Regions from separate parts of the Homo sapiens genome. Here all the other regions are linked to region 5. The links come from fine-mapping of genetic effects on gene expression. A gene starts in region 5. Each other region holds a variant in brackets. All regions are shown on one strand. Distances are between the middles of the regions.

Evidence for each region. PIP is the estimated chance that this variant, and not a neighbour inherited with it, causes the effect.
Region 1: its variant is the best candidate, but not a certain one, in a credible set for the expression of SHLD1 in blood mononuclear cells (TOPMed, PIP 0.83).
Region 2: its variant is the best candidate, but not a certain one, in a credible set for the expression of SHLD1 in whole blood (TOPMed, PIP 0.77).
Region 3: its variant is the best candidate, but not a certain one, in a credible set for the expression of SHLD1 in CD8 T cells (CEDAR, PIP 0.89).
Region 4: its variant is the best candidate, but not a certain one, in a credible set for the expression of SHLD1 in whole blood (INTERVAL, PIP 0.53).
Region 6: its variant is the best candidate, but not a certain one, in a credible set for the expression of SHLD1 in lung (TOPMed, PIP 0.56).
Region 7: its variant is the best candidate, but not a certain one, in a credible set for the expression of SHLD1 in whole blood (TOPMed, PIP 0.84).

The regions. Positions count from the first base shown.
Region 1 is chr20:5,858,154-5,862,153 of GRCh38, forward strand. The region is part of intron 2 of SHLD1 (shieldin complex subunit 1); the gene reads left to right. Among named protein-coding and RNA genes, the nearest start is that of CHGB, 51 kb to the right of the region's middle. The variant T/C (reference allele first, on the strand shown) is at 2,229.
Region 2 is chr20:5,666,849-5,671,252 of GRCh38, forward strand. No RefSeq gene overlaps it. Among named protein-coding and RNA genes, the nearest start is that of GPCPD1, 58 kb to the left of the region's middle. The variant G/A (reference allele first, on the strand shown) is at 2,524.
Region 3 is chr20:5,826,805-5,830,804 of GRCh38, forward strand. The region is part of intron 2 of SHLD1 (shieldin complex subunit 1); the gene reads left to right. Among named protein-coding and RNA genes, the nearest start is that of SHLD1, 78 kb to the left of the region's middle. RefSeq lists an enhancer at 49-550. The variant G/T (reference allele first, on the strand shown) is at 1,852.
Region 4 is chr20:5,819,413-5,823,412 of GRCh38, forward strand. The region is part of intron 2 of SHLD1 (shieldin complex subunit 1); the gene reads left to right. Among named protein-coding and RNA genes, the nearest start is that of SHLD1, 71 kb to the left of the region's middle. RefSeq lists an enhancer at 3,416-3,555. The variant C/A (reference allele first, on the strand shown) is at 1,652.
Region 5 is chr20:5,747,975-5,752,306 of GRCh38, forward strand. It overlaps SHLD1 (shieldin complex subunit 1), which reads left to right and starts at 2,427. Exons shown (of 3, transcript NM_152504.4): 1 at 2,427-2,505. RefSeq lists an enhancer at 2,253-2,302.
Region 6 is chr20:5,811,517-5,815,516 of GRCh38, forward strand. The region is part of intron 2 of SHLD1 (shieldin complex subunit 1); the gene reads left to right. Among named protein-coding and RNA genes, the nearest start is that of SHLD1, 63 kb to the left of the region's middle. The variant A/C (reference allele first, on the strand shown) is at 1,579.
Region 7 is chr20:5,685,345-5,689,748 of GRCh38, forward strand. No RefSeq gene overlaps it. Among named protein-coding and RNA genes, the nearest start is that of SHLD1, 63 kb to the right of the region's middle. RefSeq lists an enhancer at 2,760-3,260. The variant C/T (reference allele first, on the strand shown) is at 2,724.

The DNA of each region.
Region 1 (4,000 bases), 110 kb after region 5:
CCATACATAGGTCCTCTTAATCAGCAATTGCTAGTAAAAGAAACTCTGGACAATCAAGCAGGGTGGGTGGGTGGCTATTGATTCAGATGCATGCAGAAGGCAGAATTCTAAATATCAAATCTATTTAGTAGAAACTTGTTACAGTTGAAGGCAAAAATGTTTCACGGAGATGAAACCCTGCTGTGCATTTATGAACCACAGAAATAGCCATGGAAAGTTCTCTGGAAGAATCCCTCATTAGATATCTGGGTTTCTAAAGGCTAATGGCATCTCTTGCAGAACACAACTATTAATCTCAAGTGCTCCATGCCAGTTGACTGTCTTCTGAATTCAAATAAGCACCTACAACTCCTAAATATATAAAAATATTTTTAGGTGTATAACAATCTCAAGTATCAGGCTGAGCGTGGTGGCTCATGCCTATAATCCTAGCACTTTGGAAGGCCAAGGTGAGCAAATCACTTGAGGCCAGGAGTTCGAGACCAGCCTGGCCAACATGGCAAAACCCCATCTCTACCAAAAATACAAAAAATTAGCCAGGCATGGTGGCACACACCTGTGGTCCCAGCTACTCGGGTGGCTGAGGTGAGAGGATCATTTGAGCCCAGGAGGTGGAGGCTGCAGTGAGTTGAGATCATGCCACTGCACTCCAGCTTGGGTGACAGAGTAAGACTTCACCTCAAAAGGAATCTGAAGTATCTATATGTTATCTCTTTTCTTGTTGGCAAAGAGAAAATTTAACAATTGGATGCATGCAAAAGCATTGTGATATCAAGCCCTGCCCTCCTCCTTTTCTTCTTGTAAATTTCTAAAGAAATCCTATTCATGATGGAAAATATATAAAAAGGCAAGTTCCATTCAATTTAAATAATACCAGAATCACTGGGACCAGGGCCAATGGTTTTCCCCCTCAACCATTGTTGTGGGGTAAAAAAGCCATCTCATGGTCTGAGAAGGGAAAATGTGTAACTCGAATAGGTACCAGCAAGAAGGGTGCTGTGCAGGGAATGGGGACCAACAGCAAAAGTCTCTTAGGGAGCTCAAGGCAAATCAACATATTACAGTGCAGCGGGAGTCAACATTGAGTTCCCACTCCTTTCAAGATCCATCCTTTGACCCAGGGGAGGGGTGAGGGGCAGGGGGACATTATTGGTATTTGGGAGATGGACCATTCTTTGTTTGTCCTGTGCACTGTAGAATGTTTACATCCTTGACCCCACTCACTAAATGCAAGTAGCACTTTGCAATCCCTGACACAAAAACATCCCTAGACTCTCCCTGAAGACGTTGCTATCCCCCTTTGACAGCTCTACAAGGTTGGAATATACCAACAGAGAGAATAAGGTGGGGTTTGAACGTAACTGGGAGGATGCATCACTGAGCACGAACTGACTAGTACCATCATTCTTTCCACACATGGACACATCAGGAAAGGAAAAGCAATTAGCTACATTTGCTGGCAAAGAAATGGTGACATCCAAAAGCTACAACAGCCTTATGATTAGAGAGGAGGCTTTATAGTTGGTAGTAAAGCAAATTTTAAAAGGAAATCAAAAACTGAAATGGACTGCAGGCAGCATTCAAAATAACTGACATAGTAAATGACTCAACCCGTATGTCATTGGTCTTCTGAAGGGGAAGGGTTGTTTCTCTGAAGACGACTGGCAGACTGCCTGACATGTGCATGAAAAGTATAGGAGACAGCTAGCTTTTAGCCTCTTTTGTGGACACTGGATTTCAAAATTTTTAAATTAAATGAAACACAGATGAAAATTTTAAATCCTGCATATCAAAGCACATTGACAATTTACTTACCAAGTACGTGCCATGTTGCTTGGCGTTTTCTATTGTACGTGGACAGTTTTGAGGGTTCAACTTTCCCAGTGTTGTTGGTGGGCATCCCCCGCTCTCTCCCACCCACCCCATTGGCCCTTCCCAGCTTCTGTCTTCCAGCCACCACCTCCCAACCCCTACCCAGGACAAGGTCATCTGCGGGTAAGAAGGTAGGAAGGGACCCTTCATCCTGCCATCACGGGACCCCATTCCCTCTCCTTCTCCCTTCAGCTTTCTAACAGCAGCATCATTTGTTAGGCAATTACCCAAGCTAAGGCTTCTTATTTGGTTGCTTGATATTAAAGTAGGCCAGCAAAGGAAGTTTTTACATCTATCCCCCCAGAGGTTTGTTTTAATTTTTTTACAACAATTTTTTAAAACAAAGAGCCCTTTTT[T/C]ATGAATTATTTGAGATTTGCTCACAAAAAATCAGGCCACCAATCCTGATTTTTCTACAAACAAGGACATTCTCTTCTAAAACAATAAAATCATCAAAATCAAGAAATTAACAGTGATGCATTACTACCATCTAATCCTCAGACCCCATTCACAGCTCTCCAGTTGCCCCAGTAATGTGCTTTACAATGAAAAGATGAAGTTTAAAAAAAGTTTTTTTTTGCATTTGGCTGTCATGGCTGTTTTAGCCTCCTTCATTCTGGGACAGTAGCTCAGTCCTTCCTTGGTTTTCACAAACCTGGCACTTCTGAAGAGTACAGGCCAAGAACTCCTCTCCTGCTGCTTCTATGCCATCAGAACAAGAAAGAGACCAGCATCTGTCTCCCTCCCCTTCCACCCATCCTGGAGGCTTCAGTCCAGTGATAGTGTTCTTGGGAAGAACTTGGGTAAAAGCTCTGGGCATAGCAAGGTCAAGGAAAGTTTCTTTACTATTCTTTAAAAAAAAAAAAAAAAAAAAAAAAAAAAAAAAAAAGACGGGCCTGGGACATAGCTTTAAGCTTTCTGGAAACTAGTGTAGTGGAAATACCATCCCTGCTATCGAATTTTTTACAAAGCGTGTTCTCTGTTTTGGGTGCCCCCTGGCCATTCTGAGTTCTCTCTCTCCTTGAGCCTCCAGGCTGGGTCTCAGGCTGCTGAAGAAAGGCCAGTTGGCAGAGGAGGAGAACTGGAACCAGCCAAGGAGACATTTAGTTTCTATTTCTTCTTGCCACTGGCCTTTTGTTCATCAACTCTGCTTCTCCATTGCGTGGTCCTTTCAGAATAAGATTGCAGGTCACCTCCTCTGAAGAGGGAGCATGCACTCATTCTGCTACCCTGGCACTGCATGTTTCCACAGAGTCCACAGTGTCCCAGTTAATGTCACTACATCATTTCATATCTATGTACATCCTGTGACTATATTTCAGTTGTTTAATGTCTGTAACGATGTCTCTTCTTCCTACTTAGATTCCAAGTACCTCAGATGAGGGACATGATCTTCAGCATCCATCTGTCTATCTTCAACAACTTGTAATGAGTTGCCTTAATATCAGCTTTCTATAAATAAGTGTTGAATGGATGAATGCTTGTCCATGTGTAGGCCTGCGTGTGACTCAAAGAACACATGTCCATATTCTTTTAGAATGTGCTGATAACTTCCGGATAATCTATTTCTCTGATCTTTACATTACCATAGACATTCTAGAAGAGAGATTGTTTAGTAAAACCCTCATTTTAAAGTTGAGAAAGTTGAAGCCCAGAAAGGTTGTATGACTTGTCCAAGATGTCATTTCCAGCTAGTAGCAAAACTAGGGCCCAAACCAAAATCCTACCTCCTTTCCTAAAGCTCCACCCACTGTACCATGCACCTTACTTCAGCATTGGCAAGTACAGATATGTTTATTGTAGCTACTGATTGAGTTCGTAGGGGCAGGGAAATGTCAAAGCTAGTGATTTATAAAAGCTTATATCAGGGTCAGGCGTGGAGGTCCAAGAGCAGGGTGCCTGCCTGGTCAGCTTCTGGTGAGGGCTCCTTTCCTGGCTTGTAGACAGCCGCCTTCTCACTGTGTGCTCACATGGCTTTTCCTTAGTGCTTGCAAAGAGAAAGAAAAAAGAGATCTCCTTTTCTCTTCCTCCTCTTATAAGGATCCTTTCAGATTAGGATTCTACCTATAGACCTCATTTAACTTTAATTACCTCCTAAAAAGCCCTCTCTCCAAATATAGTCATGTTGGGG
Region 2 (4,404 bases), 81 kb before region 5:
CCCTATTAGCCGGGATGGTCTTGATCTCCTGACCTTGTGATCCGCCCTTCTCGGCCTCCCAAAGTGCTGGGATTACAGACTTGAGCCACCGCGCCCGGCCACCACAACCAATTTTCAACATGCTGCTGGGTGTGAGATAATCAGAAAAGCATGGAGCATAGGTAGACATTTAATGGTCTTTTGAGTCCAACCTCTACATTTTACTGATAATTAATTTGGAGAATCCATTGTCCTTCCAAGATTGATTACCCATTTCTCATTTTGAGGAACGTTTAACAGCAAGAAGATTGGATCAGGTTTCTGAGTGAGCCCCAAGAACTTTGTCTCTGAGAGCTTTCAAGGTTTGAGTGACTCCTTTGCATTTTGAGTACATATTCCAAGGGCATTTTCCTTTGGCTGTTTGTGATCAGAGATTATTGTGGTCATGATGTGCCTGCACATTATTGCTGCAATAGCAAACCACTCATCTTATTTGCTGGTGTCTCTGTGGGTCAGTCTTTGGGTTGGACTCAGCTGGGCAGTTCTTCTGACGCTCTCACCTGGGGTCATAGTGGTAGGGAGAGTAACAATCCTCCTGAAGATGTCAATTCCCTAATCCTTGGTTTTAGACCTGCGCAAGCTACATTACCTAGTAAAGGGGACTTTGCAAATGCAATTAAATTTATGGACTTTTGGGTTAGGAAATTATCCTGGACTGTCTGGACAGGTCTAACGTAGTTACATGGGCCCTTAAAAGTAGAAAAGAAACTTTGGGAGGCTGAGATGGGCAGATCGCTTGAGCCCAAGAGTTCAGGACCAGCCTGGGCACCATGGCAAAATCCTGACTCTAGGGGAGGTTCAAAGCATGAAAGGGACTTGCCTACCATTGTTGGCTTTGAATTAGAGGAAGGGGGCCATAAGCCAAGGGACAGCCTCTAGAAGCAGGGAACAGCCCTCACTCACAGCCAGCAAGGGGACCTCAGTTCTACAGCCGAAAGGGACTGAATTCTGCCAATAGCCTGAATGAGTAAAGAAACAGCTTCTCCTCATAGAGCCTCCAGAAAGGAGCGCTGGTATCTCACTGTGGTTTCAATTTGCATTTCCCTGGTGATTAGTGATGTTGAGCGTCTTTTCATGTGCTTGTTGGCCATTCGTATGTCTTCTTTGGAGAAATGTTTATTTGCCCATGTTTACTGGGGTTGTTTGTTTTGTTGTAGGAATCCTTCATATGGCTTGCATATCAACCCTTTATTATATATATAATTTCAAATATTTTCTCCCATTCTGTAGGCTACCTCTTCAGTCTTTTGATAGTGTCTTTTGAGGCACAGAAATTTCAAATTTTGGTGTAACCTAATTTATCTATTTTTACTTTTGTTGCCTGTACTTTTGGCATGATATCTAAGAAATTATTGTGAAATCCAATGTTATGAAGCTTTCTCCCTAAATTTTCTTCCAAGAGTTTTATAGTTGGGAGAGTTTTAAGCAGTGAAGTGCTATATGGGAGGCTGGACAGGGCAGGGATGTGGGAAGCTGATTGTGTTGAAAGTCCCAGTCTTCATCCCTCCCCTCATCTACATGCTTTGCTGTCACATTGCAGCTCCACCCAACAAGAGGCAACATGCACTTTCCTACCACTTGACTTTATTTCAGCCATGTACTTGGTAAAGACTTTCTACTCTGACTCTGGGCTTGACCATATGACTTGCTTTGGCCCATATAATGAGACAGAAGTGATGGCACAGCAGTTCCAAGCCAAGGCTTCAAGGAGCCTTGCAGGTTTCCACTTGCTATCTTGTGCTTCTGCCATCGTCCCGAGAACCTGCCCAGGCGAGCCCGCTGGAGGATGAGAAACACACAGAGCAGAGCTGAATAGCCTCAGTCAACTCAACCAGCTGATCCCCAGACATGGGCGTGAGCCATCAGCTGGTCCCCAGTTAACCCCAGAGGCATTAGTATTGCAGGCCACTGAGGTTTTGTGGCTGTTTCTTATGAAATGTACTCCATAATATCCAATAAGGATATTCAGTAAGGATGATATGGCATTGGATAACTGATACAGCGAGCAGATTGGAAGCAGAGAGATGTGTTGGGAGGATATTACAATAATTCAGGTGAGAGATGATAGCTGTGAAGGTGATGACAAGAGGTTGGATTCTGGATGTATCTTGAAGGTGGTGCTGATGGATTTGCTCTCACATTGGAAATAGGGTATGGGGAAGAGAGACCAGCTGAGGATCACTCCATGGGTTTTGAGCATCTGGAAGGATGAAATTGCCACTAGCTGTGGTAGGATGACTGCAGGAGGAGCAGGTTTGGGGAGGCTATCAGGGACTCAGTTTTGAATATTCACACATTCAGGGATTTTGGGAGAGTTGACACATATCCCTGGACTTTGGGAGTGCTCATAAAGCCAGAGGCTGGCAGTGCTTCTTGAATGAAAAACTGTGAAAAGGGGAGGCCTGATGAAGCAGCCTGTTGTGGATAAGCATGCCCCACAAGGAAAGGATGAGGGCTTTCCCTTTGCCTGAGGGCAGGAAGAGT[G/A]CATCAAGGGTCCCACGCCTCCTTATGAAGGAGCATAAAGTGGAGTGGTGGGTGGATACCTAGGGCTGCCCAGGTGGTGTCCAGCAAAGAGAAGCTTCCCCCGGAGAAAGGCTAGAGTACAGAGGCTGGTAGAGGCTGAGGGGAGACCTGACTGCCTTTGCCTGAGGGATGACCTCAGGAGTAGAAAGGGCTCACATGAAGTCATGTGGCATTCCGAAAGAATGGCACTCACCATCTCAGCGGAGCCCACCGCCTCTATGGGGGCCTCCAGCTGCAGAGCCCAGCCTGAGAGAATCCTCCTAGGAGGGCAGTCAAGGAGGAGGTCAGAGCCTCTTCTCCTCATGAATGCCAACGGTGGAGAACTAGGCTGGAAAGGGCACCTGGGCGAGGTGGGGAACAGGGAGAATCCTGGAACATAGATTTCCAGCTCTCGGAGAGGAAGAGTCTAACTTTTTTTTTTGAGACAGAGTCTCGCCCTGTCACCCAGGCTGGAGGGCAGGGGTTGCAGTTAGCCAAGATCACACCACTGCACTCTAGCCTGAGTGACAGAGTGAGACTCGGTCTCAATAAACAAAAAAACAAGAAGAAGTTGGTGTGAATTTGAGAGCTGTATTGTTAAGGCTCCAGTAGCATCTATTGTAGATATCACTGAGGGATGGGAAGGGGGATTCAAAGAGCATGGTAGAAAATGCAATTAGAGAAAATAGAATTTTCTTTTTTTCCACACGCACTAGATTGAATGAAAATAGTTTTCAAAACCCCTCTGCCTTGCACTCCCTAATGAACGGATGATACACATGAATTAAACTGTGGGTGGCTTAATAGCTGGAGAGAGGCCACAAGTATAGGCAGAAATGAACACACATGTGTTGCAACAGAAGCACTCAAGACGCAACAGTGAAATTCACTAGCAGAAAATCGAGGTGAGAAGAAATCGAAAATTGTTCTTTTAAACCTACCGCTTTTGCTGACTGTCATTAAAAATGTGAAAACAGGTGGTAATGGAACCATAAGTGATTAGTTTTCTTTCCTTCTGCATGATTATAATGATGTTTGAGAGTGAAACAATGCTCCTAAAATTTATTACTTTTTTGTCCACTAAAAAAAATGCCCCCATCTTTAACTTTAGTGGCACAAATCATCTATTTTTCTAACAACCTCAGAAACTCAGTATGATGTCCCCTTTGAAAATAATGGAAAGTTGCCGGGCGCGGTGGCTCATGCCTGTAATCCCAGCACTTTGGGAGGCCGAGGCGGGTGGATCACGAGGTCAGGAGATCGAGACCATCCTGGCTAACACAGTGAAACCCCGTCTCTACTAAAAATACAAAAAAATTAGCCAGGCGTGGTGGCAGGCACCTGTAGTCCCAGCTGCTTGGGAGGCTGAGGCAGGAGAATGGCATGAACCCAGAAGGTGGAGCTTGCAGTGAGCCGAGATCGCGCCACCGCACTCCAGCCTGGGCAACCGAGCGAGACTCCATCTCAAAAAAAAAAAAAAAAAGAAAAAGAAAATAATGGAAAGTTTGTGCTCAGCTCCTTCAGTGTCTGCAGCAAGACAGCAAATGAGACCCATGAGAATCTGGGGCTCAGGCAAAAGTTCCAGAAGAAGTTTAAATGCTGAGGTGGGGCCTGTGAAGGAGGGAGGGAGCGCTGGAGACCAGGGGCCTTGGCGATCTGTTTACAACACAAGGGTGACCAGAGCTGTCTGTCTGTAGAGGGCCCTGATGGGAGCAGAGGCATCCAGACAAACAGGGCTCATGCTCTTCTGGGAATCCCTGCCTCACCATGAAACAGAAGAGAGAGATTCCACCAACTGCTTGGATATGTCCCCTTTACATTTCTCCAGCCCAGATGGTGGTGGTGGTGGTGGTGTTGTTTTGA
Region 3 (4,000 bases), 79 kb after region 5:
TAAATGAATTCTGTGAAAGCCTGGGGAAGAGGGCCTGGCACGCATAGGTTTCACGTAAGTGCTGTGGTCTGTGGCTAGTCTGTCATCGCCCCTCCCTCATATCCCCCCCTTCACCACATCACCACCTACCATCCCCCAGTCCCCTCTTTCTCCCAGACCCTCCCTCTCTGCATTTGCCCCTAATGCCGTCAGTAGCCCCCACTCCCACCCCATTTCCTTGCTGCTTGACTGTATCAGCTCAAGTCCTGGTGGAGAAGAGATGAAACAGTCCAACCAGGTAAAGTGAGGAGAGCTTAATGAAGAGCTTATGTACAAAGGCATGAGTGGGCGTGGCACCCACAGGGAAAGCACAGAGCCTGGGGCCCGCCACCATGAGAGCGTGTGCTCGCAGCAGCTGTGTGGAGGGGCTGTCTTGATGCGAGCTGTGGGCCTGCTGGAGGGATGCCGCCAGCCCAGGAAGGGATCCAAGGATGTAAATAGTCCAACCTTGCCTCCTCCCTCCTTCCACCTCCTGCCAGGCCTCCTCTTGGCTCCCAACCCGAAGCTGGAGGGCAAGGGCAGCCATCAGCCATAGTCCACGTAGTCCGCCTCCCAAGGGCAGAGCAGGGTGGAGACGGGGAGAGCAGATATAGACCAGAGGTCAAGTGGAAGAGCTCTGCACAGTGCCCTATGGCACCCCCAGTCTGCAGCCCCCACCCAGCCTGGAGTCATGGGCCCCCGCAGTCTGGCCCACCTGCCTTCACCCACAGGCCCCCCATCTCTGTCCCCATACCCTCCTCCCCTGCCATTCTGCCAGTCTGCAGCCTGCTCACCAAATACACAATGACCTTTGCACTTCTTTTCAACTTTTCACACCTCTTCCCTTTCCCAGGAGTGCCTTTCCCTCCTAGGCCTGGAGAAATGCTATATAGTCTTAGGATCCAGCCTGAATCCCCTTGCTCTCTGCAGATTTCCCTTGCCTCCAGTTAGCTTCCCTTACGGCTGATTCGACACGTACTTCATTACAGTGCGTACTTCACTAGGGTGCACTTCATGCTGTGGTCTTGCCAGTTATTTGTGGACCACTTCCTCTATAGACCAGATCATTCACTCTTGTGGGTAGAAACTACACCATGGTCATCTCTGCATTCCTTTGTGGTACCTCCAAGTAGTTGAAATAAAAACAAGTGCTCAAAAAATTAGTTGCATTGAAATGACTGATGCAAAGATACGATGAATATCATTTACTTGGTTAAAGGTGGTGTTAGTTATAAAGAGTAGAGTCAGCATATTCAACACTGATTAACTATATTGCATGTTGTATGTAACCAAGTCACTCCCTAACTTGCCTCCCCCCAACATACATCTAGATTTAGTCACTGTCATCTCCTCTGGGGACACCCTTTGTGTCACTTATTAGAATTTATCTGTATAATTATTTATCCTGGGTTCTACCTCCTCTTCTAGATCTTTAACTCCGTAAGGGCAGGGGCCATATCTGTGCTAGTCATCACAGAGTCTCTAGACCTTAGAACAGTGTGATAGGTCTTTCATAGCTGTTTGTTGAATGAATAAATATGTTGGTCATAATACATTATAACATATCGTAACCTTAAAGGCCTGCAGAATGGGGACTCTAGGTGCCATGGAAGGGCCTATGAAGTTCCTTTCCATGCCCCTCAAACCATTTCCTGCTGCTGGAAGGAGTCATTTCTTGATGACTCCATTCCCACATCATTAGAGCAGCCACCCTTTCCACTTGCATGGAAGTAGGTCTTGTACCAAGAAGAACAAATTTCCTTTTCCTTCTGTCACCATAAGGAATATAGTAATATTGGGGGAATTATTCTTTTTCTGCAATTCTTTTGCTTC[G/T]CATTTCACTGTCCTTATTGTGCTGATTTGCAGTTTCTTAAATTGATGGTGCCAAGTAAAATATATTTGATTGTAGTTTGTACCATTTCAAATCGATTTAGTAATTTTGAAGATGTGTAATAGGCATTATCAGGTCTTAAAATTGAAAATTGGCATGATTTTATGTCATTTTATATCATTTCACTAATGTGATAGTCTAGCCAGATTCTATTATTATTGTCATTATTATTATTTTGAGATAGGATCTCTCTTTGTTACCCAGGCTGGAGTACAGTGGTGCAATGTTGGCTCACTGCAGCCTCAACATCCCCAGGCTCAGGTGATTCTCCCACCTCAGCCTCCTGAGTAGCCGAGACTACAGGCATGCACCACCATGCCTGGCTCATTTTTTGAATTATTTTTGTAGAGACAGAGTCTCACTATGTTGCCCAGGCTGGTCTCAACTCCTGGGCTCAATCTATCTGCCCGCCTTGGCCTCCCAAAGTGCTGGGATTACAGGTGTGAGCCATCATGCCCAGCCAGATTTTATTATTAATTAATGAGTTCAGGGAGTTCTTTTTAAAGGTCACAAATGATGTTTAATAACATGAAAAAAGATTATCTTTTGGAAACAGAAAGTAGCAACATAGCCTACAAGCCTTAATTTATTTAAGCCCTACTATTACTCACTAATCTTTTTATTTGAGGTTTAACATTCTGACCAATATGTTCTGGAAAGGAAATTAAACTCAACATTTGAGATAACAGAGCTCTTATGAAGCTTATATACTGGAGATATTGGAAAAAGATACTAATCTCCCTCTCCCCTCAAAAAGCAAGAAAGCAATTAGTCTGGAGGGACTGTCTAAATAGGATTGTCTAAAGGAAAACCTGCAAAAAAATTGGGCAGATGGTCTTTATAAACTTAGAGAAGATTAACTCCGCAGCCATGTTGTAACAGGTTTTTACGGATGCATTTGTTGCAAATTAATTGCCTCTTTTCGGCCTTAATAACCTAAATTTAAGTTTGGGGGTTTGCATAGAAGCAATTCAAAGCTCAATACTGTCATGTTTTTCATTAATTTACCAGTGAGTGGTTGGGTTTGTATGAATAATTTGATTTATTTTGAAGTTAAATGTAATTATAAGTTGTGTTTTGCTAGGCAGCTTGTCCTTTATAATAGAATTTGCCTTGAACTACAATATAATTTATTCTACCCTTCTTGGTTAACAGCCTCTTCTTTAGGAAAAAAAAACACAGGCAATATCTGTGAAGATAATATTTTTAAGGTAGATGCAATAGAATGGTTTGGGAGTCTTTCAGTCTTGGGTGATAGAAGATCAGATTTGGTACAGATCTGGTATAGAACCCCATCATTAGGACTAAAAGCAGGCAAAAGCAGAACTGGGCCCTCAGTTCTCAGATAAGCTGTTATACCTATTTGCAGTTTCTTCAAAAGTGAGCATACATAGACAGTTCTACTCCCAGGTAAGTACCTAAGAGAAATGCATCCGTATGTTCATGGAGAGACATGCACTGAAATAGTCACAGCAACACTCATAACGGCCCTAACTAGAAACTCTATACATGCCCTTTATCAGATAAATAAATGGTAGTGTGTTCACATCACGGAATACTATTCATCATTGAAAATGAACAAACTGCCACTGTATGCATATAAGGTTGAGTGAAAGAAGCCAGATAGCAAAGAGTACATACTGCATGATTCCATTTATATAAAGTATAAAAGACAAAGCAATGTGGCCAGATGCGGTGGCTCACGCCTGTACTCCCAGCACTTTGGGAGGCTGAGGTGGGCAGATCACCTAAGGTCGGGAGTTCTAGACCAGCCTGACCAACATGGACCAACATGACCAACCCTGTCTCTACTAAAAATACAAAATTAGCCAGGCGTAGTGGCACATGCCTGTAATCTCAGCTACTCAGGAGGCTGAGGCAGGAGAATTGCTTGAACCCAGGAGGCAGAGGTTGCAGTGAGCCGAGATTGCGCCATTGCACTCCAGCCTGGGCAACAAGAGTGAAACTCCGTCTTAAAAAAAAAAAAAAAAAAGCAATGTAGGTGTTAGAATGGTGGTAAGTCTTAGAAGGTAATAGTTGAAAGGAGGCAAAAGGAGGTCTTCTGGGGTTCTGGTGCTGTTCTGTTTCTTG
Region 4 (4,000 bases), 71 kb after region 5:
GCCTTTGTAATTGCTTCACTTTCATCACATATAAGAAGTACTCAATGAATGCTTACTGATTTCATGCACTGTAGGAACAACACCGACTATTGTCATGTTGGCTGTTGTCATATTAAAACATCATGTAGGCCAGTCATGGTGGTTCACATCTGTAATCCCAGCACTTTGGGAGGCTGAGACAGGAGGATCCTTTGAGGTCAGGAGTTCGAGACCAGCCTGGGCAACACAGCAAGACCCTGTTTCTACAAAAAATAAAAAAATTAGCCAGGCATGGTGGAGTACACCTTTAGTCCTAGCTACTTGGGAGGTTGAGGCAGGAGGATGGCTTGAGCCCAGGAAGCCAGGGCTGCAGTGAGCCATGATGGTGCAACTGCACTCCAGCCTGAATGACAGCGTGAGACCCAGTCTCTTAAAAACAACAACAATAAAATCATCATGTAACTTGCTAAGACAGCCACACCTTTGTGTTGTGCCTAAAAAATTACTGAGTTCTGGTGGATACATAATGAGGACTTGACAGTGTTTTTTTTTTGTTTTTTGTTTTGTTTTTAGAAGGAGTCTTGCTCTGTCGCCCAGACAGGCTGGAGTGCAGTGCTGTGATCTCAGCTCACTGCAACCTCCATCTCCTGGGTTCAAGTGATTATCCCGCCTCAGCCTCCCCAGTAGCTGGGATTACAGGCGTGTGCCACCATGCCTGGCTGATTTTTCTATTTTTAGTAGAGACAAGGTTTCACCATGTTGGTTGTCCAGGCTTGTCTCCTGACCTCAGGTGATCCGCCCACCTCGGCCTCCCAAAGTGCTGGGATTATAGGCGTGAGCCACCATGCCCAGCCAGTCTTATTAAATGCTTCAAATATATGTCACATTCAGCTTCATGTCCCTGATGGTTCCCTGCACCATGCTACGCCAATAAACACTCAACGGATACTCAACGGATACAAAAGAGTATTTGGTAGATCTTCAGAGACGGAAAGCAAATTCAGTGCCTTTATTCAGCAAAAATTCAATGAGCAGCTGCTATGTGCTGGACACTGTGCTAGCCCCTGGGGATGAAGTGTGAATTAAAGGCAGTGTCTGCCCTCTTGAAGTTCACCACCCAGTGATAGAACACCCAAGAAACCAGCCTCCAAGATGTTCAGATTAAAAGAAATTCTTCCACAGTGACATTTTCACCAGGCAAACTCAGAGTTGTTTGACATGAGAAGGTTTAAAAAAGGATAGTTGTGAAAGACCAGGCAAAGTTCACAAAGTGAAGAAGGGAAAATATTATTTCAGACTGATATTAAATGATGGCCTAGCCTGCTGCCATACTGTCTCACAGGGAAAAGTTTTATTTATGTCTCCTTTGATCTTTTCTCCTTTTTGTCTCTAGGTTTGATGTACAAGCTTTAGCTTGGGCCTTTGATTTACAGTGTTCTGGAGAAAGAGACCAGGGATGACAAAGCCAACCAGGCTGTTACCTAAAAACCTGATATATTGTCCTAGATCTAGGCTGTCTTAGAGCTACACAAAGAATTTCCAGCAGACTGCTCAGGAAGAGCCTGCTGGGAAGGCAGTTCCCCTAAAGTCCCATAAAATAAAGAGCTTCCCAGTCCTTCTTTGATATCCACGGTTTGCTTAAGTATTGGATGTTAAGGCAGCAACTTCTAGT[C/A]CTGTGGAAAATCTTTTAATATCTGTGCTTAATCAACTGAGAAAATAAAAATTTATAGATCCATCAATGACAAATATATTAAACATGGGGCTTTAAAAATTGCCTGGAAGTCTGTGACCAACATTTTTTTAGCCTGTAAAATATAGTTTGTTTAAACTTATTAAGGCTGGGCGTGGTGGTGGCTCACGCCTATAATCCCAGCACTTTGGGAGGCTGAGGTGGGCGGATCACCTGAGGTCAGGAGTTCGAGACCAGACTGGCCAACATGGTGAAACCCCGTTTCTACTAAAAATACAAAAATCAGCCGGGCGTGGTGGTGTGCACCTATAATCCCAGCTGCTCAGGAGGTTGAGGCACGAGAATCGCTTGAACCAGGAGGCGGAGGTTGCAGTGAGCTGAGATCACACCACTGCACTCCAGCCTGGGTGACAGAGCATGACTCTATCTCAAAACAAAACAAAACAAAACAAAAAAACTTGATTATAGTATACTGGATATTGAGGGATAGGGAATTTAGTTATCAGCTGGGAGTAATAACAAATTTCTGGAAAACTCAAACATCGATCATATCAGAGTTTCTGAGGATCAGAAATCCAGGAGGGGCTTAATAGGGTAGTTCTGGCTCAGGGTCTGTCATGAGGTGGCCGCCAAGTGAAACCTTCCCTGGAGCTGGAAGAGCTGCTTCAGAGAAGACTGCCACCGGATGCTTGGCTGGAGTTTTCAGTTTTTCTCCACATGGGCCTCTCCCAGGGCTGCTGAGTGTCCTTGAACTGTGGCAGTCAGCTTCCCCACAGTGAGTCGTGAGAGAGGGAGACAGCCAAACAGAAGCCCTGGAGTCTTTCATGATCTCATCTCAGACATGATGGGCCATCTCCTCTGCTGCACTCGACAGTCATACAGACCAACCCTGGGACCACATGCAAGGGGACCACCTGAGGGTGTGAGTGCTAGGAGGTGAGGAGCCATCCTGGATGCTGGCTACCTCATAGGTGACTGGCCAGGCAAAGTTTATTAACTAAAAGTTCTTTGTGTTGACTCAGGTGAACTAACATTTACTGCTTCAGTTGTTCATTTAATTTAATTTTCTTGAGAGATTTAAAGTAAGTGCTCAAAGCCAGGCATGGTGGCTCATGCCTGTAATCCCAGCACTTTGGGAGCCCAAGGCGGGCAGATCACCTGAGGTCAGGAGTTTGACACCAGCCCAGCCAACACGATGAAACCCCATCTCTACTAAAAATACAGAAAATTAGCCGGGCGTGGTGACGGGTGCCTGTAGTGCCAGCTACTTGGGAGGCTGAGGCAGGAGAATCACTTGAACCTGGGAGGCAGAGGCTGCAGTGAACCAAGATCGCACCACTGCACTCCAGCCTGGGCTACAGAGTGAGACTCTATCTCAAAAAAATTAATTAATTAAAAATAAATAAATGAATAAAGTGAGTGCTCAGAGCTGTGTTGCTTTGTTGTGTGCATGTGTGTGAGTGTGTGTGCTTGTGTCCCTAAGTCCCAGCAGTGAGACAAATTGTGTGGTTCCTTATCGTACCTGAGAAGCAGGGAGCAGCCACCAAGAAGACTGTTACAGTGGGTGAGTTGTTTATGCCCTGCTTAAGGCCAGCCCCTCCACTTAATCTTCATCTCCTCTCTCCTAGTCATGGACTTCACACCCACCGTTAACCCCTCACTCCTGCATTATCAATCTTTCTCTCTTGACTGGCTCATTCTTGGCTACATACAAAGATGATGTAATATTTCCCATCTAAAAAAAAAAATCCATGACCCCAGGTTCCTCTTTAGGTCCTGCCCTGTTTCTCTGTTCCTTTTTATAGCAGAAGGCTATGAAAGATGTGTCTTATTTGTCTATACTCACTCTCTCCACCTCTTACCTTCCCGATTTCTCTCCAACCCACTCCAGTCACACTTTTGCCTTCCCTCCCCCACCCCGCCCCCACCCCCATATATACTCCACCACTGCTATTGTTATGGAACTGTGGTGTCTTTTGTCCTTCCAAATCCAGTGGTCGGTTCCCAGTCCTTTGTATTTGACCAAGCAGCAGCGTTTTACACTGTTGATCCCCCCCTTCCCGGATACCTGTTCTTCCCTTGGCTCCTGGGACCCCTCCCTCAGCTTCTCCTCCTGCCCTCACTGGCTGCTGTTTCTCATCCTCCTCTGCTGGCTCTTCAAGGCACTTCTTACTGACCTCAGGCCTCAGGCCTCTTCCCTCCACCCCTCTGCCTTCAGTCCCTTTTGTATTTTTTTGTAGAGACAGGATTTTGGCATGTTGGCCAGATTGGTCTCAAACTCCTGACCTCAAGTGATCCACCTGACTCGGCTTCCCAAAGGCATGAGTCATA
Region 5 (4,332 bases):
GGGAGGCAGAGGTTGCAGTGAGCCAAGATCGCGCCACTGCACTCCAGCCTGGGCGACACAGTGAGACTCCATCTCCAAAAAATAAATAAATAAATAAATAAATAAAAGGAAAAGAAAATAGTGTATAGGTAAAATATTTATCTTAAGTCCAGGACTCCTAATTTATGGGTTATTATTCCAATTTAGGCATCGATAGGAGGCTATGAGTATACACTACTCTTTCAAGAAAATGGTGAAAGGGGAAAAGAGCCCTCAGTTTTGTTAAATTTTATAAGAGGCAATTGATTTGGTCTGACCTCCTCCACTAGGCCCCAGCAGGCCAGGCCAAATCAGAACTGAGTTACTTGTGCTAAGTGCCATGTAATCAAACTGAACTTTGAAACAAGCCCATCTTCCAGAAAACGGGAGATTCCAGTCAATCTGAGTAAATATAATAAGGAAGTCTTCTCTGTTTTAACCCTACAAGGAAAGTAACTTTGAAATGATCAATTTGCAGGGCCGGGTGCGGTGGCTCATGGCTGTAATCACAGCACTTTGGGAGGCCCAGGCGGGAAAATCACTTGAGATCAGGAGTTCAAGACTAGTCTGGCCAACATGGCAAAACCCTGTCTCTACTAGAAATACAAAAATTAGCCGGGCATGGTGGTGCACGCCTGTGATCCAGGTACTAGGGAGGCTGACACACAAGAATCACTTTAACTCAGGAGATGGAAGTTGAGATCGCACCAGGACACTCCAGCCTGGACGACAGAGTAAGACTGTCTCAAAAAAAAAAAGAAAAAAAAAAGGACGATCAATTTGCTTTTTGTTCAAATCTCTTTCTGCATTCTTTAGCCCCTTTTCTGCCTATGAAGCTAACCTTGTCTGCTCAGCTCATTGGAACATTCAATCTTATAGAATGAGATGCTGCCTGATTCTAGAATTGTAAACAAAAGCCAATTAGATCTTTAAGCTAAATCTTAATTTTGTAATTTTGTCTTTAGACAGTCTCTTTTTTGTGGTCCTGCAGTTGTGGCAGTTATGTAGTTATCTGCATGCATCAGAATATTACAATATTTTCATCCTCATCTTTAATTTCTACTTTTCATATTTTTAAAATGTAGACATTCAAGTTTATTTATTTATTTATTAAAACCATTTTGTAGGCCGGGCACGGTGGCTCACGCCTGTAATCCCAGCACTTTGGGAGGCCCAGGCAGGCGGATCACGAGGCCAGGAGATCGAGACCATCCTGGCTAACACGGTGAAACCCCGTCTCTACTAAAAATACAAAAAATTAGCCGGGCGTGGTAGCGGGCGCCTGTAGTCCCAGCTACTTGGGAGGCTGAGGCAGGAGAATGGCGTGAACCCGGGAGGCGGAGCTTGCAGTGAGCCGAGATGGCGCCACCGCACTCCAGCCTGGGCAACAGAGCGAGACTCCGTCTCAAAAAAAAAAAAACAAAACCATTTTGTAGAGACAAGGTCTCCACTGTGTTGCCCAGGTGGGTCTTGAACTCCTTGCCTCAAGTAATCCTCCCATCTTGGCCTCCCAAAGCAGTGGGATTACAGGGGCATGCCACCCCACCCTCTCCAAGACATTGAATTTTATTTATTTTTTTTTTTGAGACGGAGTTTCGCTCTCGTTGCCCAGGCTGGAGTGCAATGGCACGATCTTGGCTCACCACAACCTCCACCTTCTGGGTTCAAGCGATTCTCCTGCCTTAGTCTCCCGGGTAGCTGCGATTACAGGCTGCACCACCACACCCAGCTAATTTTGTATTTTTAGTAGAGACAGGGTTTCTCTGTTGGTAAGGCTGGTCTCGAACTCCCGACCTCAGGTGATCCTCCTGCCTCGGCCTACCAAAGTGCTGGGATTACAGGCGTGAGCCACTGAGCCCAGACGAATTTTTTTTTTTAAAAGGCAAGGTCTAGCTCTGTTGCCCAGGCTGGACTGCAGTGGCAAGAACATGGCCAACTGCAGCCTTGACCTCTCAGGCTCAAGCAATTCTCCCACCTCAGCCCCCCAACTACCTGGGCCTACAGACATGTGCCACCATGCCTCGCTAATTAAAAAAAAATTTTTTTTGTAGAGACAGTGTCTCCCTATGTTGCCCAGGCTGGTCTCAAACTCCTGGCCTCAAGTGATCCGTCTCAGCCTCCCAAAGTGCTGGGACTACAGGCGTAAGCCACCGCTCCCGGCCAACATTTAAATTTTTGAATATTTTTTCTGTTCCCTTAGGGTTTACCAAGCACATTTATCGACAAGCCTCCTCAGGAAATTGCCCAAAATAGCCACATGTGGCAAGCCTCATTGACAGGCCAAAAGCCTCAGTCAACATGGCCGCGACCGGCTTCCATTGCCCTTCACTGCCCGCAGTAAGGATGGCTCCGGTGACTTCCTTCGAACCTCACATTTCCCATAAAAAAGATGGCGCCATTGCTTCCGCGTTCCGGTTGCGGATGGTGAGTGTGTCGGGGGGCTTGGCGGCTTTTCTCCTCAGTTTTCTGGAGTGCTTTGGAGGAGAGGTAAGCGCGGGATGGGATGGGGGGGGGTTGGAGTGGTGGGGGCGGGGGTCACAGCAATGCATCTGATCGTTCTCTCTCAATTAGGAAGTTATGGAGGCTTTCCTAGGCATGTCAGGATTTCCTGCTAGCTCCCCGCCCCTTCCGCCCCAACACACGGTGTCTGCAGCCTGTGCTTTGGGGAATTTTGGGAATTTGTGGATAGTGAGTATGGATAAGCTTCGGTTTTGTTGTTTTTTTTTAAATTTTTTCAGTGACCTGCCACTTCAGGAGGTTCTGCTAAAAAACCAACAAACAAAAAAACAGCTTTCTTGGGAAATTTCTATTCACCTACTAAGTAAAATTTGCCCATTTAAAGCGTAAAAAAAAATCAAGCCTAGCATAGTGGCATTCGCCTGTAGTTCCAGCTGCTCAGGAGACTGAGGTGGGAGAATCGCTTGTGCCCCGGAGTTCCAGGCTGCAGTGAGCCCAGATCGCGCCACTGCACTCCAGCCTGGAAGACAGAGCAAGACAACGTACCCAAAAATAAATAATAAAGGGTAACATTAAGGGTTTTTTTGTTGTTGTTGACAGAATTGTGCATCTATTACTGTGATCTCATTTTAGAATACTTTCATCACTCCAAAGAAAAATCCTGCCTCCAGTAGCAGTCATTCTACATTCACCACGTCCACTCCGCCTCAAGTCCTAGACAATTGCTAGTATACTTTCTGTCTGTATAGCCTTGCCAATTCGCACGTTTGATATAAATGAAATCATACAGTGCAGCTGGCTTCTTTCATTAAGTATAATGTCAATGTTTTTGTGACTAGCTTCTTTCATGACTTTTGTTCTTTTTTTAAACGGAGTCTCATGACTCTCACTCTGTAGCCCAGGCTGGAGTATAGTGGCACGATCTTGGCTCACTGCAACCTCTGCTGCCCAGGTTCAAGCTAGTCTCCTGCCTGAGCCTCCCGAGTAGCTGGGACTACAGGCGCCTGCCACCACGTTCGACTAATTTTTGTATTTTTAGTAGAGACGAGGTTTCACCATCTTGGCCAGGCTGGTCTTGAACTCCTCAGCTCTTGATCAACCTGCCTCAGCCTCTCAAAGTGCTGAGATTACAGGTGTGAGCCACCACGCCCGGCTATCTTCTTATACTATGTATAATATTTTCAAAGCTTGTCTTTGTATCATGTGTCAGACTGTTAGCAAATAAATAAAACTCTGTAAACTATTTTAAAGCGGTTTATTCTGAGCCAGTATGATTGACCATCGCCCAGAGAGAAAACACAAACCCAAAAAGTCTTTAGTAAGTGATCCCGAGGCAGTTGGGTTATAGTTTGTTTTTTTTACATTTTAGGGAGACAGGAGTTAACAGGCAAAGACATAAATCAATACATGGAAGGTATACATTGGTTAGACCCAAAAAGGTGGATATGTCCAAGGGTGGTCTTAGAAGTCTTAGGTGGATTTTAGGGATTCTTTAGCTGACAGTTGCTTGAGAGAGTTAAGCTTTGTCTAAAGACTTGAAGTCAGTAGAAAAGAATGCTTGAACTAAGATAAGGGAGTTGTGTGGTTCAAGGTCCTTGTTACGTAGATGAAGTGTGAGTAGCAGCCTCAGAGAATAGATGGGCTAGGTGCCATGACTAGAGATGGGCTGGGCTCCATGGCTCACACCTGTAATCTCAACGCTTTGTGAGGCCGTGGCAGGCAGATCACTTGAGGTCAGGAGTTCAAGACCAGCCTGGCCAACATGATGAAACACCATCTCTACGAAAAATAAAAAAATTAGCCAGGCACGGTGGCGTGCGCCTGTAATCCCAGCTACTTGGAAGGCTGAGACACAAG
Region 6 (4,000 bases), 63 kb after region 5:
CTTCTGGCAGTAGAATGGTAGACAAAAAAAAATGTGTTTTCAAGCTGGAGACCTGAGGCTGGGCATGGTGGCTCACGCCTGTAAAACCAGTGCTTTGGGAGACCAAGGAGGGAGGATTGCTTGAGCCCAGGAGTTCAAGACCAGCCTGGGGAACATAGTGAGACTGTGTCTCTACAAAAAAATTTAAAAATTAGCCAGGTGTGGTGGTGCACACCTTTGGTCCCAACTATTTGGGAGACTGAGGTGGGAGGAGCACTTGAGCCCAGGAGGTCGAGGCTGCAGTGAGCCATGACCATGCCACTGCACTCCAGCCTGGGCAACAATGTGAAACTGTGTCTCTGAAAAAAAAAAAAATGAATTTGAACACCTGCACTAAACCCCATCTCCACCACTGCCGGCTGTATAACCCAAGGCGAGTTACTTTCTCTTAAGCCTTAATTTTCTCATCTGTAAAATGGGGATTACTAATACTTAGTTCATAGGATTGCTATGAAGGGTAAGTGGGATAATATGTATCTGTAAGTCCTAGTCTAGGAACTTCTTTTTCTTTTTCTTTTTTTTTTCTTTTTTTTTCTTTTTTTTTTTGAGGACCCGACCTTTTATTTTGCCAAGCAAAAATCTTAAAAACAACCTATACCAATATCTCCACAAATCTATTAGCATTTCATAAAAGAAAGGATATTTTAACATTCAAAATGAAAGAAGGACCTAATCCCAAAATAAAGATCAGTTTTCTGTAGTCCCTAGTGTTTTTTTCTCACGTATCCATGGACTAGTAAGGGTTTCATCATGGCCTAGCATGAGTCCATAGGCCACTGCTTGGAAAACTTCTATGTATCCAGTATACAATGCACTGATTACTGTGCTCAGTGCTTAACAGGCAACTGGAAGATGGTAAGAACTATTATTAATAACAGACACTTAGAGGTTTTGATATATGTAACTTTAGAGTCCTTCTTTCCATTTCTAAAAATTCCGACAATTTTTGAACAAGTGAACGAGTGGCCTCTTGTAAGACAACAGAGCCAGAAGTCCTCAGGAGCTCAGTACAATTGTGTCTTTGCTTTATAAAATAAATCATCATGAATGAGAAGTAGCTTTGCCATGTGTATTACTTTCACCAGGTATTATGCCTCACTAAATGCAGAGTTCTTTTCTGTTTCTCCGTATTATGTTAGATTGTTTACCTGAACCCTGATGGCTAGCTTCTTTACAGGGTTGTGAATGTTGTCCCTTCAGTCATTAGCGAAATGCTTATTGTGTATCTACTATGCTGCAGACCCTGTTCCTAGGGTCGGGGATACACAGTGAACAAAATAGACAAAGGCTCTCCCTCTCTTTAAGGGGCTTTTTATTTTTATTTTTATTTTTTTATTGAGACGGGGTCTCACTCTGTCACCCAGGCTGGAGTGCAGTGATATAATCGTGGCTTACCACAGCCTCAACCTCCCAGGCTCAGGTGACACTCCTACCTCAGCCTCCTAAGTACCTGGGACCACAGGTGTGTGCCACCATGCCTGGCTATTTTTTTCTATTTTTAGTAGAGGTGGGGTTTCACCATGTTGCCCCGGCTGCTCT[A/C]GAACTTCTGGGCTCAAGTGATCCACTCGCCTCGACCTCCCAAAGTGCTGGGATTACAGGCGTGAGTCACCATGCCTGGTCTTTAAAGGGCTTTTTAAATTCTAGTTCTTTGGCTGGGTGCTGTGGCTCACGTCTGTAATCCCAGCATTTTGGGAGGCCGAGGCAGGCGGATCACCTGAGCTAAGGAGTTCAAAACCAGCCTGACCAACGTGGTGAAACCCTGTCTCTACTAAAAATACAAAAAAAATAGCGAGGCGTGGTGGCACGTGCCTGTAGTCCCAGCTACTTGGGAGGCTGAGGCAGGAGAATTGTTTGAACCCAGGAGGTGGAGGTGCAGTGAGCCGAGATTGTGCCACTGCACTCCAGCTTGGGTGACAGAGCAAGACTATGTCTCTAAATAAATAAATAATTCTAGTTCTTAGGATCATGGTTGGAAGGGGCAGAAGGGGTATATAGACACTAAAAGAAATCTGTAACAGCTGCTGCTGTGAAGAAAGGAAAGCAGTGTTAGAGATGAAGGGTGTGATTAAAATATGATGGCCTGGATAGGTTTCTCTGATAAGGCAATGTGTGTGTAGAGTCTGGAAGAATTTTGGTATTAAAGGAGTAAATTAATACATTTTTGTTTTGCTTGTAAACTTAATTCTCTGATGAAGTGCCTCTTCTATTACCTTTCTGTGGAAGAGGAGAAAATGCAAATATTGGAAAAGAGCAAGAGAAATAGTAACATACTTATGGCACTATTTCCTCCATTTATAGAGCAAAAATGAAACAAACAAAAAACTGAATTAAGTGGCTTTTAAACTAAGACACAAGCCTGCTTTTCTCAAACACCTTTTTCCTTTTCTTTCTTTTTTTTTTTTTTTTTTTTTTTTTGAGACAGGGTCTCACTCTGTCTCCCACGCTGGAGTGCAGTGGCACAGTCTCAGCTCACTGCAAACGCCGCCTCCCTGGTTCAAGCGATTCTCCTACCTCAGCCTCCAGAGTGGCTGGGACTACAGGCGTGTGCCACCATGCCCGGCTAATTTTTGTATTTTTTTTTGTAGAGATGGGGTTTCTCCATGTTGCCAAGGCTGGTCTTGAACTCCTGAGCTCAAGCGATCCACCCACCTTGGCCTCCCAAAGTGCTGGGATTATAGGCATGAGCCACCGCGCCCGACCCCTCAAAACACCTATTATTACTGCTTTTCCTTTATGGCTGCCTGGGTATCAATCCAAGAAGCATCTTTGAAAGTGTTAAATATTTACTTACACTGGCAAAAGTAAGCTTCATCTGTGAAATTGTCTTATAGGACCCAAGAATCTTAAAGAAAAATATTGACCACTCAGTGGTGGCTTATTTAGGAATATCTGTATATTTTTTGTTAAATGTTCTAGAATTTAAAATTCTTCTGAGCACAGTCCCTATAGAATTGAATTAATTCTTTTACATAATTCCAAAGTTGAAAAAGATGAATGACTTGTCTACTTTCAGCTAGATTTTAACTTTTGAGGTAAAATTGCTAACATCCTTTCAAGTAAGTTCTTTATTTCCAAAATTACTTTTTCTTTTTCTTCTTCTTTTTTTTTTTTTTTTTTTTTTTGAGATAGGGTCTCACTCTGTCACCCAGGCTGCAGTGCAGTGGTGCAATTTCCTCAGCTCACTGCAACCTCTGCCTCCCAGGCTCAAGTGATCCTCTCATCTCAGCCTCCTGAGTAGCTGGTACCACAGGCGCATGCCACCACACCCACTAATTTTTTGTAGAGACGGGTTTCATCATGTTGCCCAGGCTGGTCTCGAATTCCTGGGCTCAAGAGATCTGCCCACCTTGGCCTCCCAAATTGCTGGGATTACAGTCATGAACCACTGCGCCCGGCCCCAAAATTACTTTTTCTAATGACACACAACACCAGAGGATTGGAAGGAAACATCCAGAATTTGCTCCAGTGTTCTTTTTCATCACTTATGTTCCTTGGGGGTTTCTGTGGTTCCAGAAGCCATTCATGCCTGCGAGACAGCGGCCCTGGGGGAGAATTGAGCTTTTTTCTCTCCTGAGCAGATACGCTTGTTGGATTGCATTAAATGAGCCCCTTGAACCACTGTGCTCAGCCTTGTCTGCACATCGGCATCAACTGCAAGTTTTAATGATCTTGATGCCCGGGACTCATCTCCAGAAGCTCTGATTTAATTGGTATATAGGGCAGCCTGGGAATCAGGATTTTGTAAAAGCTCAAGTGCTTCTAATATGCAGCCACGCTGAAAAACCACTGCCTTAGAGCAGTGCTTCTCAAAATGTAATGTGACTATTAACCACCCAGGGATCCTATTAAAATACAGATTCTAATTCAGTAAAGTGTGAGGTGGAGGCCAATGATGTGTAAATAAGACCATAGAGCAGGAGTCAGCAGCCTCTGGCCTGTGGACCAATTCTGACCCTATGCC
Region 7 (4,404 bases), 63 kb before region 5:
TAAATTCATTGGCCAGCATTAGTCACATCATTCACTTAACAATGAGCCTGGAAGGCTCATGAGGGCTCAGGAAGTATAATCCTATCATTTACCTGGAAAGGGGAGAACTGAAAGAAAGAGAAGTACCAGAATATTTGGGTACTACACACATATTTACCTTCTTAGTTTCCTGATCCTTAAGGGAACTGGGAATTCTGAGTGGACAGTGAGGAAGTGCAGGAAAAAGTGGGAAAGGACAGGCTACTTGGAGCCTTCACCTGAGCCAAGCTTGCTGAAAATGGGTGAAATCTGTGGTGCCTCAACTCTGCCTGGTCTGAATGCTCTGCCGAGCCTGGCTCCTCTGACTTACTTGTTCTGTGATCTAAGCCTCAATTTCTTCAACTTTAAAATGAAGATGATAGTAGAACCTACCTCAGAGGAGGTGTGATGATTGCATAAGGTAATACATGTGAGTGACTTGGAACAGCACTGTAAAACTTTCTGCAATGACGGAAATCTTCTACGCTGTCTGATACAGTAGCCACTGGCTACTGAGTGCTTGGAGTGTAGCTAGTGCAACCAAGAAACTGAATTATTAATTCTGTCACCCAGGCTGGAGTGCAGTGACATGACCTTGGCTCACTGCAACCTCCGCCTCCCAGGTTCGAGGGATTCTCCTGCCTCAGCCTCCGGAGTAGCTGGGATTACAGATGCCCACCACCAGGCCCGGCTACTTTTTGTATTTTTAGTAGAGACAGGGTTTTCACCATGTTGTCCAGGCTGGTCTCGAAATTCCTGACCACAGGTGATCCGCCCACCTCGGCCTCCCAAAGTGCTGGGATTACAGGTGTTAGCCACCGTGCCCAGGCTAAATGATTAATTTTATCTAATTTTAATTAATTTAAATTTACATGTACATTGCCACATGTGGCTATAGCTATTGCATGAGACAGTGCAGACTTAAGACTTTGGCCTGGCACCGTGGCTCACACCTGTAATTCCAGCACTTCGGGAGGCAAAGACAGGAGGATCACTTGCGCCTGGGAGTTCAAGACCAGCCTAGGCAACCTAGTGAGATCCTGTCTCCATAAGAAATTGAATTAGTTGAGCACGGTGATGCACATCTGTAGTCCCGGCTACTCTGAAGGCCAAGGTGAGAGGATCACTTGAGCCCAGGAGGTCAAGGCTGCAGTGAGCCGTGATCGCACCACTGCACCCCGGCCTGGGTGGCAGAATGAGAACCTGTCTCTCAACAAAACGAAACAAACATTGCTTAACACATAGGGAGCATTCAACAAGGGTTAGCTAAGTGTCAAATTGCTACAGCCAGAGTGGCAGAAGAAGACTCAACCCAGAAGTCGAAGAAAATGAGAAAACGTCTAGATTTGAAGGAATGACCTCCCACAGAGCATTGCCCCCCTTCACTTTACCTTCAGGTAACGGCTTCGAAGAGAAGATCTGCAACCATCTAAAGGAAACGTTGGGGATGTTTTGTTCCTCTTAGTCACCTTTGCTTGGGTAGGAAGTCACTCCTCACATAGAAAGACTTGGCCATGGGCAGCAGCGCAGGTGGGAGGCATATGGGTGCGCACTCACCTCACCTTCCAGTTCAGCACAGGCTCCCTTTACACCCTAGCTGCCCCGTGTCCTCATGCTGAGCCCACGGCAGATCTTTGTCCTGTCCAGGACTTCATCCTCCTTGCCTCTAGATCTCCAGTGTCAAGTTAGCATCTGCATCAGTTTCCCAGGGCTGCCATAACAAAGTGTCACAATCTGAGTGGCTTCTCTGACAGTTCTGGAGACCAGAAGTCAAGGTGTAGGCAGGACCGTGTGCTCTGAATGTTCTAGGGGGAGAATCTATTCCATGCCTTTTTCTTAGCTTCTGGGCATTCCTGGGTTCTTGCGTGTATTGCTCCAATCTCTATTCCTGTCATCACAACAGGGCACTCTCTTTGAGTGTCTGTGTTTCCTTTTGTGTCTGTGTCTTGTGTTACTTCTCTCTCTCTCTCTTTTTTTTTTTTTTTTTTTTTTGAGACAGGGTCTTACTCTGTCACCCAGGCTGGAGTAGTACAGTGGCGTGAACTTGGCTCACTGCAACCTCTGCCTCCTGGGCTCAAGCGATCCTCCCACCTCAGCCTCCTGAGTAGCTGGGACTACGGGTGCATGCCACCACACCTGGCTAATTTTTGTATTCTTGGTAGAGATGGGGTTTCACCATGTTGCCCAGGCTGGTCTTGAACTCCTGAGCTCAAGTGATCCACCCACCTTGGCCTCCCAAAGTGCTGGAATTACAGGCATGAGCCACTGCACCTGGCCTCTTCCCCTCTTACAAAGACACCAGTCATATTGGATTAGGGCCCATTTAATCCAGTATGACCTCATCTTAACCTGATTGCATCTGCAGGGACCCTATTTCCAAATAAGATCACATTCACAGGTCCCAGGGGTTGGGACCTTAACATATCTGCTTGAGGGACGCAGTTTAGCCCACAACAGTTACCATTCCGTCGTGGGCTTATTTTCTGCTGGGTGGCAGCTACTTTATCTGTCACAGTTTTGAGGAGGACACTTGTCATTCTGTGTGCCTGGTATCCTTCTCCTGAGAATAACTGAGCTGCTGCTAACATGAAGATGGTTTAGGGCAAAAATTTTAAAAAGGCACTCCCTTTGGGTAGACAAATTGCAAAATTCGTGCCCACTCCATGTGATGAATTACAGACAGTTTGCACCTTCCCCTTCCTGCT[C/T]ATGCAAGGAAGTGTTGCGCCCTTCCTCTTTCCCTTTGTGTCTGCTTGGAATTGGGTCTGATTGGAATTGGGTTTCGTCACTTGCAACCAAAGAATCCTGACTGACATAGATGGTACTTGGCGCCATGAATTAATGTGTTGCCTCTCATAACTAATTTCCTGGAGGTAATCCATTCACTTGAATGAAGATTGGAGCACTGTGACCAGCAGTGCAACTTTATGGCTTTGGCTGTTAGGGATCTCCATGCCCCCTAGGTCCAGTTTAGGCTGCTCCCTGTTAGACCTGTAGCAGGTGCTCTTCTTGCCCACCATGTCCCCTCACTCTGACCTCTCCATCGGGCGGGGCCCTACTCATGGCCCCTTGGAAGTAGGGGCCCTTATTTCCTCACAAGAGGAAGCCAGCTGCTCAAGGGCTTCCTCTTGCTGCCAGAGCCCACTTTACCCCCAACGTGGCAGGCCAGAGTGTCCAGGACTTGGCCCCACACCGGAAGCAGCCCTTGCTGCCTGACTGATGGGGGGTGGTATGTTCAACACTCCAGCCGCCTTTCCCGGCAGAGGCAGCGTGCAGAGGTGTGTTCCACACTGGCTCCCAGAGGTGCCCTGAGGACAAATGCAGCTCAGCTCCCTTTCTCCCCAGTCCCTTAATTAGCTACTCTCTGTCTCAGTCTCCGCCCTCCCCACCGCTCTGCCCCCGCTCCCTTTTCCCGTCCTCCCCACGGGTGTTTCCTGGAGTCACCTCCCACATAAGCTACTTGCACAAGAGTCCTTGTCTCAGAGTCAGCTTCTAGGGGTTTCCACCTTAACATAAGACCTATGCCCAGGGTCATCACATGAAGACCTGAGTCAGCCACTTACTGGCCAGATGGCCACGGGTTACCCACTCTGGGCCACGGGTTACCCACTCTGGGTCACAGGTTACCCACTCTGGCCCTCAGTTTCTGTCTGGAAAGAGGTAGCCAGTCACACTAAAGGGGGACTTCTTTTTGGGTAGGCTATTAGAGAGGCTGATTCGATCATTGATTTTTTTTTTTTAAACAAAGCTTATGTTTTTCCTCCGAGTATAAAAGTAAAACATGACGGTTATGTAATTTTGAAAAACAGAAAAATAAATTTAGGCCTGGCACGGTGGCTTACTCCTGTAATCTCAGCACTTTGGGAGGCCGAGGTGGGCAGATCACTTGAGGCCAGGAGTTCAAGACCAGCCTGGCCAACATAGAGAAACCTTGTCTCTATTAAAAATACAAAAAATTAGCCTAGCGTCGTGGGGCGCACCTGTAATCCCAGCTACTCGAGGGGCTGAGGCATGAGAATCACTTGAACCTGGGAGGCAGAGGTTGCCGTGAGCTGAGATTGCACCACTGCACTCCAACCTGGGAGACAGAGAAAATCTGTCTCAACAAAAAAAAAAGAAAAATCAATTTAAAAAGTTAAAATTACCCAAATTCCACCACTCAAGGATATTTTCTTTGAAAGTAGAGGGCACAGGGTGGCCTTGAACCCTAACGTACCCTGCTTTGGGTCTGGCTATGCTGCAGGACTACGGCCCTAAGATTTCTGCAAATGTCCAGTTGCTGTGTGTAGACGCAGCTTGAAATAAACTGCTTGTACAGCATGAGGAGGAAATGTGACTGTCGGACCCTTATGTAACAGAGTAGGAAACCCTGAGTGTAAACAGGGTTTC